3 linked regions of the Homo sapiens genome follow. The protein of the gene in region 1 purifies or fractionates together with the protein of each later gene. This does not show direct contact. Each region holds a gene or a part of one and is shown on either strand. Other genes may lie near its edges.

Region 1 (3,928 bases):
TCTCTCAAATCAACCAGCCAGACTCTAACTGTACCCTCAGCATTGCCAACAGGCTCTACGGGACAAAGACGATGGCATTTCATCAGGTAAGTCCATTTGGAAGAGTGATCAACAACTTTCTTGGCGTCCTCTGAATTTCATACCCCAAAATTGATGAAGAGTGAGAAGAGTCACATGACATTTATCATTAAGAGATTGACTTTGTGCTAACTTACAGTTTCAGTGAAATGGATTTATTGAAACTCTCATGTAAAGTTCCCAAATATCACATAAAAATGACTTCTTCAAGATCCCTAATGCTGTCTAAGAACCAAGGTCAGGGATGAAGCACAAAACAAAGTAGGTAAGAATCATCCCTGTGGACCAGAAGAAAAACAAAATCAATTTTTCATATCTTTTTCAGAGGTTCTTAATAGTGGAGTATCAAGAAGTAGTTGAAATTACATTGGACTGTGAGCCAAGAGACAGGAGTTCTGTTTCCATTTAGAATATATAACTTTGGGCAAGTCACTTCTGTCTTTAAAATGAGAGGATTAGGCTTAGTTCTTTGTAGCTCCAATATTCTAACACCATTTATGCCCTTTCCCAACACCATGGTCCTATGTAGTTTTATTGAGTATTTACTCTGTGCCAGTCATTCTGCTTAGCTCATTACAAGCATTATCTCCTATAATCCTCACACTGTGCTAAGATATTGGTATAAAATTTCCATTAATTCTACAGACTGTGAAGCAGATTCTGAAAAGTCAGGCTGATAAGGGTCACAGACATATTTAAATGGCAAAACCTGGATTTAACCCCTATGCAAATCTGTCTTCCTGGTTTTAATTGCTACATCATCTTGTGATTGAGGTGAAATGCAAGCTTTTGTTTGACCAGGGTTATTTAAATGCTATCTGGGTGAAGCTGGATGAAAACATGAGTTTCTAATGTTCTTCCCTGGCCTGGTAGATCAGGTTATGTCTTGGATAACCTATGTGATGAGCTTCTGATAGTCAGAATATTTGCAACTTGGGGTAGGTATTATAGACATTCAGAGAGTATTTTCTTTTACTGCCCTGGAAGCATATAGGGAACGATGTATGGAGAGTGTCTAGAGTGGCAGGGATTAACAATCACGGTCCTTTGAGCTGGTATGCCCGCTCTCTTGACTTTGCCTTCTCAAAACAGTGACCCAGATATAACAGTAGACAAATGTGGATTTGGGATGATCATGATGACATCTGTTCCAGAAGTGAGAAGGTCCTCATTAGCATCATGAAGATTGTCTTGAACTATGTCATGAGAGGGACCTTGTTATTTCAGGATTCTGGCTGGGAAAAAGTCCATCTCCTGGGCTATGGAGAGTTACTTAAGGTTGTTTCAACCACAATTGGATCCAGCTCAGGACAAGATTCATTCTGAGGCCCAGATTTTGCTCATAGTATATTGGGGGAACCCGCCCTGATAATTCAATGTAGGTTCTTTTCTGTTTTCCCTATGTGTCGGCTGGTCTGAGAAATAAAGGGAAAGAGTACAACAGAGAGAAATTTTAAAGCTGGGTGCCCGGGAGAGACATCACATGTCGGCAGGTTCCATGAAGCCCCCCAAGCCGCAAAACCAGCAATTTTTTATTAGTGATTTTCAAAGGGGAGGGAGTGTACGAATAGGGTGTGGGTCACAGAGATCACATGCTTCACAAGGCAATAAAATATCACAAGGCAAATGGGGGCAGAGCATCGGGGCAAAATTAAAATTGCTAATGAAGTTTCGGGCATGCATTGTCATTGATAATATCTTATCAGGAGGCAGGGTTTGAGAGCAGACAACCGGTCTGACTAAAATTTACTAGTCAGGAATTTCCTCGTCCTGATAGGCCTGGGAGTGCTACGGGAGACCGGGGCTTATTTCATCCCTTATCTACAACTGTATAAGACAGGCATTCCCAGAGCAGCCATTTCAGAGACCTCCCCCTAGGAACGCATTCTCTTTCTCAGGGCTGTTCCTTGCTGAGAAAAAGAATTCAACGATATTTCTCCTATTTGTTTTTGAAAAGAGAAATATGGCTCTGTTCTGCCTGGCTCTCAGGCAGCCAGATCTAATGGTTATCTCCCTAGTTCCCTGAACATCGCTGTTATCCTGTTCTTTTTTCAAGTTGCCCAGATTTCATATTGTTTAAACACACATGCTTTACGAACAATTTGTGCAGTTAACGCAATCATCACAGGGTCCTGAGGTGATATACATCCTCAGCTTACGAAGATGATGGGATTAAGAGATTAAAGAAGACAGGCATAGAAAATCACAAGAGTATTGATTAGGGAAGTGATAAATGTCCATGAAATCTTCACAATTTATGTTCAGAGATTGCAATAAAGACAGGTGTAAGAAATTATAAAAGTATTAATTTGAGGAACTAATAAATGCCCATGAATTCTTCACAATTTATGTTCTTCTGTCACGGCTTCAGCAGGTCAGTCCCTCCGTTCGGGGTCCCTGACTTCCCCCAACATTAGTTAAGCTTTGTTTTTCTTCTACGCTAGGCACATCTTCCATATTTCAAAGTCTTGTATTGTTCTATTCAGTTCATGTTGGGGCATTGAGTCCCACTGGGCTGTGGAGGTATGCTCCTTAGGTCTCAGGAATTGCATCATGGTAAACTCATTTGGGTCCATGTAGATATCACTGTTGTCTTGGCAGAAAGACAACGGAAAGTCTCCAGTTCTATAGAAATCTAGGGCCATGGGTGGTCATAAATTGTTGCTCCAGAATGCTACACAGGAGGGCCTCCGGAGTAAAAATTTTTGGTTAAAAGAAAGGGTAAGTTCTTTATACTGAGTTTGCACACCACTTTCACTTAGATAATATGTTATAGGTGAACGAAATAATAAATTCTTAAGATATTTTTGTTCACACTTTACATAAATTTGACAGAAATGCCAACTATCTACATCACAGAATGTTTTTATTATTAATTATATTTATGGCAGCTTGTGAGGAGATTGATATATATCATGGGAGCAACCTTCTGTTAGACCTCAGAAAAGCAAGTCACTTAACCACTCTGCTTCTCAGTTTTCCTGTCTATAATCTGAGAGCAGTAACTTCCATGTCTACTTTGAAGAGGAAAGAGTAGGAATAGAGTCAGAAGGTGCTCATGTATTGCAATTTGTCATTTTGCTTTGAACACTTTAAAACTAAGAAAGCCAATCATATGACAGAAGTAACAACAAAACATTTCTGAACATTCCTTTTGGAAGGGTTTCAGATTTTGTTAAATTTATTTGTTTTATTAAAAATAAGTACATATGGATCCTGTTTCCTCTCAGACTTGTTTATGGGAACTGCTTTTTTCTCTGCATTAGAATTTTAGAATACATTGAGCTGTAGATTTTTGTTTTCCTTACACTGCTTTTGAATTGTTGTTCAATTATCATGTCTTTCATAGCAATATTTAAGCTGTTCTGAGAAATGGTATCAAGCCAGGTTGCAAACTGTGGATTTTGAACAGTCTACAGAAGAAACGAGGAAAACGATTAATGCTTGGGTTGAAAATAAAACTAATGGTAAGGATAAGTCAATATGTGTCTCTAAACTCTGTGTTGTGTTGATAAGCAACCTGAGTCCACTTGCTAAAGAGGAAGCTGGCTGAAGTCTGCACCTGACATAGGCAGATCAGCAAGAAAGGAATGGGGCCATATTTTGGAATACCCCTTACAATCAGTTGTTCTAGAAGCTATACAAAGTGACTCTGCGAATGAACACCATTTCTGTTTCATAAATGTGTGGCACATTCTGCAATTAAAATTAATTAAATTTAAATTTACTTTTCACAATTAAAAACCCATATATATTGCTAAACATTTCTTAAATGTTTCTTAGAAACATTTGGTTAAGGAAAAATTTAAGGATATACAAAGGTAAAGAGAATATATAATGAACCCTATTT
Region 2 (3,928 bases), on another chromosome or scaffold:
GCTAAACTCTCAGCTGTTCTTCAGAAAATTTGAGGAGAAAATGAAACCAAAAAGAATACTTGAAACCCTGCTCAGTTGGTTTTGTTCTGAGCTTTCAGTGGCTCTAAGAGCTCATGGGAAATGAGTTCTTTTTCTTTTCTCCGGGCCACTTGAGTTCTAATGAAATGCACCACTTGGTTTTACAAGTTCTTCTATAAAATACTTGCTTGTTTAAAAAGCAAACAGCACTGCCCTACTTCGGAGCTCTGCAGCACATCCCTTAAAGAAAAAATACTTGAGGTCACTGTGCTGAGGCCCAGAATTTAACCACGGCCAGTAAGAACCATCAACAGAGAACGGCATTTCTGGGATGACTGTTTTAATCTTACAACAATTTATCTGAAAGGAGAAAAGAGAAAGCTGATTTTTTTTTTCTGATTCTTTTTTTTTTTTTTTTTTTGAGACAGAGTTTCACTTTTTCGCCCAGGCTGCAGTGCAGTGGTGCAATCTCCTCTCACTACAACCTCCGCCTTCCGATTTCAAGAGATTCTCCTGCCTCAGCCTCCCGAGTAGCTGGGGCTACGGGCACAGGCTGCCACGCCCAGCTATTTCTTTCTGATTCTGAAACAAAGTATTTATCGGCCATGCCTGCTGTTGGCTGCTCGGGCGACACGGTATTTCCTCGGTATTTCCTCGTTGCAGCTCCCAGGTCAGGCTCTGGGTCCCTGTGAGAGGCGGGTGGCCGCCATGGCTCTGCTGCCTCCCGTGTGGGGTAGTGACGGGGCCTTCCGAAGCTTGACTGCTTGGTTAGTTTTGTTTTGAGAGCCTGTGATGTTTCAAGATTTTTACTGCATCTTTTTATGTAGCTATTTTTATAACATGAGTAGAGGTTGAAATAGTTTTTTTCTCTCTGAAATCTCAATTCAGTCTGTCTTCCTTTTTCCTGATAAGCAGGAAGCATCCTATGCTTCTTGCCTTAGAATTACTGATTTAGGCTATTGCTTTGGTGAGGCCACATCTTGTTTTCCTCTGTGGTCCTGGAGTTTGCGTTGTGGTGAGGGGTGGAGCACATCCACCCTTCAGCTAGCGCCAATTAGGTCCCTGTGGGAAAGGGGCCCCAGCCTAGCACCAATGAAGGCTGGGCCCTGGAGTGTGCAGTGGCTGAACAGTCACAACCTGTGTTTCTCCCACCTGCATACATGCCAGGACATACACACATGCATCCCTGCACACGCACACATACATGTGTACATGTGCACACGTGTACAGAGACATGCATACACCCGTGCACACATGGACACAGGGCATCCATGCACAGGTGCACATGTATACATGTGCACATGTGTACAGACACATACACACAGGGACACATGGGCATGTCATACCCATATGCACACACACTGGCCTGAGCTGTGGAAGCTGCTGGTGCGGTCCCTGCACGTGTGGCCGCCGGGGCTGAGGGCCTACCGCGAGGTGTCCTCTATGTTGCTAGGAGGTCAGCGCTCACAGCTCAGGTCCCTTCCACCCAGTGGTGGAGGCAGTAGGGGTGTGGGGAGCCTTCTGCTGCAGCCCTGTTTCCCGCCCTGCGACCCACCCCGAGTCCCCTCTGTGTCCCACCTCATGTCCACCCTGTGTCCAGCCTTGTGTCCAGTCTGTGTCCCGCCCTGTGTCTGCCCTTTGTTTACCCTGTGTCCATCCCGTGCCCGCCTGTGTCCACCCTCTTCCTCCTCACTTGGAGCTGCCCCCACCCACCTGCCGTCGCAGCCCCTTTAGAGGTCACCAGCCCTGACCCTTTCGTCGCCCAGGGCCCTGCGGTGCTCTGCCTGTGGCCCTGCTCCCACTGCCTTGGAGGGAGGCTGCTCACAGCGCTTCATGCCGGGCACTGAGTGGTGCAGAGTCTTCGAGAAACCTTTACTTTTTAAAATTTTTTTATTAAAAATAAAACTATTAACTGAAACTGCAGACTCTATGGCTTTTCCACCCGTGCCTGTTCCGTTCTGGGACCCGGTTTTGTCCTGGCGTCTCCTCCCTCCCTCCCTGGTCTGTGAGTCTCCCAGACTTTCCTGTGCAGGATTCCGACCTTGACAGTGTCAAGCAGGCCTGTCATGGCGTCTGTAGAGCGTCCCTCACGTTGGGTCCGTCTGGTGTTTCCTCGCAATTAGACTGGGTGATGGGTTTTGGGAAGACGCCCACAGAGGTGCGGGGCCCTTCCCGTCACACCGTATCAGGGTCCTGACGTCCGCACGGCTTTCTGATCACCCGGCCAAGGTCTGCCTGCCAGGTGTGCCCTCTGACAGGTCCCTGCTTTCCCGCCCGCTCTGTCCTCTGGAAGCCGCTCACTGGGTCCAGCCCCCGCCTCCTGAAGGGAGTGTCTGCGGACATTATGTGGAATTCCTCTGTGAGGAAGATCTTGTTACTTACTTGTTTGTGGTCACTGATTTTGTCACTATGGACCCACGCCCATTTATTTTCCCTCTGGGTCGTGATCCCGTGCTGTCACCGTGAGTCTGTGTCTGGGTCGTGATCCCATGCTGTCACCGTGAGTCTGTGTCTGGGTCGTGATCCCGTGCTGTCACCGTGAGTCTGTGTCTGGGTCGTGATCCCGTGCTGTCACCGTGAGTCTGTGTCTGGGTCGTGATCCCGTGCTGTCACCGTGAGTCTGTGTCTGGGTCGTGATCCCGTGCTGTCACCGTGAGTCTGTGTCTGGGTCGTGATCCCGTGCTGTCACCGTGAGTCTGTCTGGGTGGTGATCCCGTGCTGTCACCGTGAGTCTGTGTCTGGGTCGTGATCCCGTGCTGTCACCGTGAGTCTGTGTCTGGGTCGTGATCCCGTGCTGTCACCGTGAGTCTGTGTCTGGGTCGTGATCCCGTGCTGTCACCGTGAGTCTGTGTCTGGGTCGTGATCCCGTGCTGTCACCGTGAGTCTGTCTGGGTCGTGATCCCGTGCTGTCACCGTGAGTCTGTGTCTGGGTCGTGATCCCGTGCTGTCACCGTGAGTCTGTGTCTGGGTCGTGATCCCGTGCTGTCACCGTGAGTCTGTGTCTGGGTCGTGATCCCGTGCTGTCACCGTGAGTCTGTGTCTGGGTCGTGATCCCGTGCTGTCACCGTGAGTCTGTGTCTGGGTCGTGATCCCGTGCTGTCACCGTGAGTCTGTGTCTGGGTCGTGATCCCGTGCTGTCACCGTGAGTCTGTCTGGGTCGTGATCCCGTGCTGTCACCGTGAGTCTGTGTCTGGGTCGTGATCCCGTGCTGTCACCGTGAGTCTGTGTCTGGGTCGTGATCCCGTGCTGTCACCGTGAGTCTGTGTCTGGGTCGTGATCCCGTGCTGTCACCGTGAGTCTGTGTCTGGGTCGTGATCCCGTGCTGTCACCGTGAGTCTGTGTCTGGGTCGTGATCCCGTGCTGTCACCGTGAGTCTGTGTCTGGGTCGTGATCCCGTGCTGTCACCGTGAGTCTGTCTGGGTCGTGATCCCGTGCTGTCACCGTGAGTCTGTGTCTGGGTCGTGATCCCGTGCTGTCACCGTGAGTCTGTGTCTGGGTCGTGATCCCGTGCTGTCACCGTGAGTCTGTGTCTGGGTCGTGATCCCGTGCTGTCACCGTGAGTCTGTCTGGGTCGTGATCCCGTGCTGTCACCGTGAGTCTGTCTGGGTCGTGATCCCGTGCTGTCACCGTGAGTCTGTGTCTGGGTCGTGATCCCGTGCTGTCACCGTGAGTCTGTGTCTGGGTCGTGATCCCGTGCTGTCACCGTGAGTCTGTCTGGGTCGTGATCCCGTGCTGTCACCGTGAGTCTGTGTCTGGGTCGTGATCCCGTGCTGTCACCGTGAGTCTGTGTCTGGGTCGTGATCCCGTGCTGTCACCGTGAGTCTGTCTGGGTCGTGATCCCGTGTTGTCACCGTGAGTCTGTGTCTGGGTCGTGATCCCGTGCTGTCACCGTGAGTCTGTGTCTGGGTCG
Region 3 (3,928 bases), on another chromosome or scaffold:
AGATCCTGCCACTGCACTCCAGCCTGGGTGGCAGAGTGAGACTCAGTCTCAATTAAAAAAAAAAAAAAAAAAGTATAAATTACCCATAATCTCTTACATAAATTCCTTATGATTTCCTTATATTTATTTATTCTTATAATTTCTTATATAAATCTCTTATAGTGTCTTTCTTAAAGAAATCACTGTATATAATATTTCCTGCTAGTTCTTATAACACTCAGAACCCCCACAGCACTCTCAGACCTGAGTTGCCTCTCCAGCCTGGGCTTTCCATGATTCTTGGGATGGATGCAGGAATGTCGCCTGTTTATTTTCATTCATGGGCTTGGTGACCACTGCTGCCCCTCACACACTGCATGGCTTGGAGCGGGTCTTGAACCTTAGCTTGCTTGTTTGTAAAATGGGAAAAATAAGATGGTCATGAAGACCCAGACAGCTTATAGGACCTACCTGGTAAAGCACTGTAATGTATATGTCTGTAATTGTCTAGTTGGTGGGCCTTTGGGGTTGCTTAGGTAAGGAGGAAAAATACCTCCTGTATGTCTCAGATACAAATGTAAGTTTTCGTCTAGTGAGTGTGGTCTGGTCTAGCCAGGGGCAGTGCTGTAACTTTAACCTATATGATTTTCCTTCCCACCAGAAAGAGCATGAAGCAGAGCCCTTCAGCGGGTGTGCACACCTTCTGTGACCGGCAGAAACCCCTTCCGGACGGTGCAGCCCAGTATTACGTAGCAGGTAGCGCTCAGCACAGCTCTGGCCCCAAACTCTCGGCTAGATGCTGACTCTTTTGGGGGCAGTCCAGGGAGACAGCATGGCATGGTGGTCAAGAGCAAGGGTTTTAGAGTCAGACAGACCTGAGTTTTAATCCCAACTCTGCCATTGACAAGCTATGTCACCTTCAGCAAATTACAGAAAAGAAACTCATCAAGGTTAAGTAAAATGGGGTTATAATGACTAAATGAGATAAAATATATAAAGCAACTAGCCCAGTGCATATAGTAAGGGCTCAACACTTGTAGCTGCTTTTATGCTAAAGTTGATTGGTATAATTTTTGATATGACTGACTTCACACAATCTCATGCCCCTTTGAAAGGGACTGGGACCCTAGTATGACTGGGCTATTCCCTGCAGGTCACCTGCCAGTGAAGCTTCCTGACTACAACAACCGTTTGAGAGTGCTGGTTGCCACCTATGTGACCTTCAGCCCCAATGGCACAGAGCTACTAGTCAACATGGGGGGGGAACAGGTATGTACAGCATAAGGTGGTTCTGCCCCATCACCATTCCATGCCCAGCAGCCAGGGGCATGTACCTTATGTTCACTGCTGAGGCAGACAAGACACAACAGCCTTATGGTAAATGATGTTACATTGAAATGTGGGGGTGATGTGGCATCATTGGAGTTCCCAGAGAGATGTCCTAGCTCAGTCTTTTTATTTCATTTTTTCTTAATGAACTAGATAGAAATATGATAGTATGGCATTTTGGTTAAGAATATAGGCTTTGGAATGGACAGACTTCTGTTCAAATGCTGGCCTGCTGTTCAGCAGCTGTTTACTGTGACTTTGAGCAAGTCTCTTTATTTTTCTGAGCCTCAGTTTCCTCGTCTGCTATTTTCCTAGGAGGAAATCCCTGGGGCTCAGAGCATGCAGCTCAGAGCAAGCTGTGGGTTAGTGCCAGCTTTGGGAAGTGTTCTTTGATAATGGCAGGTTGCTAAACCTTCTGTTTGTGTGCTCTCAGGATATTTAGTAAGCCTTGCATACATTTATTTACTCTACCAACACTGAGCACTTACTCTGGGACTCGCATTATTATAAATATAATAGAGACAAGTGGGAAATATGATCCATCCCCAGGCTGATGGGAGACATGACAAACGAAACAGTTAATGACATTACAAGGCAAGGCCCAAATATATACAAATGAAGCGGGATGCAGAATAGGTGAGGATAAGCCAGACATTCCTGGACCTGTCCAAGGAATCATGAAAAGCTCAGGAGTAGTGCTAGGGTAAACATTTGGCTTTGTGACCTTTGAGGACTTCTTCATCTTTTTAAACATGTGACGTGTTTTTTGTTTTTTTTTTTTGAGTTGGAGTTTCGCTCTTGTTGCCCAGGCTGGAGGGCAATGGTGCGATCTCGGCTCACTGCAACCTCCGCTCTGCCTCCTGGATTTAAGCAATTCTCCTGCCTCAGCCTTCCAAGTAGCTGGGATTACAGGCACATGCCACGCCTGGCTAATTTTGTATTTTTAGTAGAGATGGGGTTTCACGATGTTGGTCAGGCTAGTCTCGAACTCCTGACCTCAGGTGATCCGCCCACCTCACCCTCCCAAATGCTGGGATTACAGGCATTAACCACTGCACCTGACCTTCTATTTTGTTTGTTTGTTTGTTTGTTTTGAGGCAGGGTCTCATTCTGTCACCCAGGCTGGAGTGCAGTGGTACAATCTCAGGTCACTGCAGCCTCGACATCCCAGGCTCAAGTGATTCCCCCACCTCAGCCTCCTGAGTAGCTGGGACCACAGGCACACGCCACCACACCTGGCTAGTTTTTGTATTTCTTGTAAAGACGGGGTTTTGCCATGTTGCCCAAGCTGGTCTCAAACTCCTGGGCTCAAGCAACCACCCTCCTGCCTCAGCCTCCTAAAGTGCTAGGATTACAGGCTACGCCACCATGCCCAGCCAAATGTGATTCTAATTAATGATAGTATTTCAAGCAGGACTTTGGGTAGATCAGATAGCCCACCCTGAATGCTAGAGCTAGGAAGATTTTCCAGCCTGAGGTTTGCTGGAAGTACCTCTTAGGATAGCTTGATTGTTCTATGCTCAACACTCACTGTGTTCCAAGACTCTAGTTCTTGAGAAACCAAGACCTGCTTACTGGTTCAACCACATCCTTACCTCACAGCTTCCATCTCTTTTTTTGCCCCCCTCAACTCTAGGTCTATTTGTTTGACTTGACTTACAAGCAGCGGCCGTACACCTTCCTCTTGCCTAGAAAATGCCACTCCTCGGGGGGTAAGTTCTCCCTTAGGGTATCTCTACTGCGGCGGTGTAGGGGAGCTTAAGTGCATGCTACACCTGCTGAGAAGCCTGCCCTTTACTCTGGACCGTGATCCTCCAAAAATAGCAGATCTCTGAAATAACCCCACCTATGCAGTAAGAAAGAGGATGACAATAGAGCAGAGATCTCTTCAAGAGCTTTGCATCACTGCCCTTTTTGCTTCCCTCTGAAAAGACAGGTTCCTTCCATGGCTTGGCTCTTGAGAACCTGAAATAGTTCCCCTCTCCTTTGTATCCTGGCCCAGTCTTCTCATTGATTTCTTCCTGGGGCCTACAGTTGATTTAGGCACCTCCTCACTCCATTCCCACCCCCAGCCCCAGCCCTAGCCCCAGCCCCAACCCTAGCCCCAGCCCCAGCCCTAGCCCCAGCCCCAGCCCCAGCTGAGTAATGCCACGGTGAAGTTGTGTCCCTCGCCAGCCAGCAGAGGGCGCACGGGCTTTTCTTTATGTCAGAACTTGCTTTCTGGGAATGGATCTTACTCTGGGAGAACAGTCCCACGATGGAACCATCAGACCCCGTGATGGAAGCTAGAGGGCTGCCAGGAAGAAATGGGTCCTCTTCCTGAGTTGTTGCTGTCACTTTCTCACTATCTCCTGCCAGAAGTCCAGAATGGCAAGATGTCCACCAACGGTGTGTCCAACGGTGTGTCCAATGGCCTGCACCTTCATAGCAATGGCTTCCGGCTGCCGGAGAGTAGGGGACATGTCAGGTGAGGCCAGCTGGCTTGTCCAGCCCTCCAAGCCCCAGTTACACTATATGGACTGGAGGGAGGGACATAACCTGTAAATCTTCCTCCTGACCCACACCCACTCATGCATCCCAGAGAGTGAGGACCAAGGCAAAGAGCCTTCTTGGAGGGTGC

What was found. Proteins that work in one complex are often made in the same cells at the same time.
Region 2: the proteins of SERPINB11 (region 1) and LMF1 purify together in Homo sapiens (affinity purification with mass spectrometry, with the first as the bait; one large-scale study listed by BioGRID). This does not show direct contact.
Region 3: the proteins of SERPINB11 (region 1) and WDTC1 purify together in Homo sapiens (affinity purification with mass spectrometry; one large-scale study listed by BioGRID and IntAct). This does not show direct contact.

Annotation. Positions count from the first base shown.
Region 1 is NC_000018.10:63,712,608-63,716,535, forward strand, and holds part of SERPINB11 (serpin B11), read left to right. Parts: coding exon 1-86; intron 87-3,427; coding exon 3,428-3,545; intron 3,546-3,928. UniProt on the Homo sapiens protein: Has no serine protease inhibitory activity, probably due to variants in the scaffold impairing conformational change.
Region 2 is NC_000016.10:960,807-964,734, reverse strand, and holds part of LMF1 (lipase maturation factor 1), read left to right. Parts: intron 1-3,928. UniProt on the Homo sapiens protein: Involved in the maturation of specific proteins in the endoplasmic reticulum. Required for maturation and transport of active lipoprotein lipase (LPL) through the secretory pathway. Each LMF1 molecule chaperones 50 or more molecules of LPL.
Region 3 is NC_000001.11:27,293,382-27,297,309, forward strand, and holds part of WDTC1 (WD and tetratricopeptide repeats protein 1), read left to right. Parts: intron 1-640; coding exon 641-735; intron 736-1,132; coding exon 1,133-1,248; intron 1,249-2,944; coding exon 2,945-3,020; intron 3,021-3,666; coding exon 3,667-3,775; intron 3,776-3,928. UniProt on the Homo sapiens protein: May function as a substrate receptor for CUL4-DDB1 E3 ubiquitin-protein ligase complex.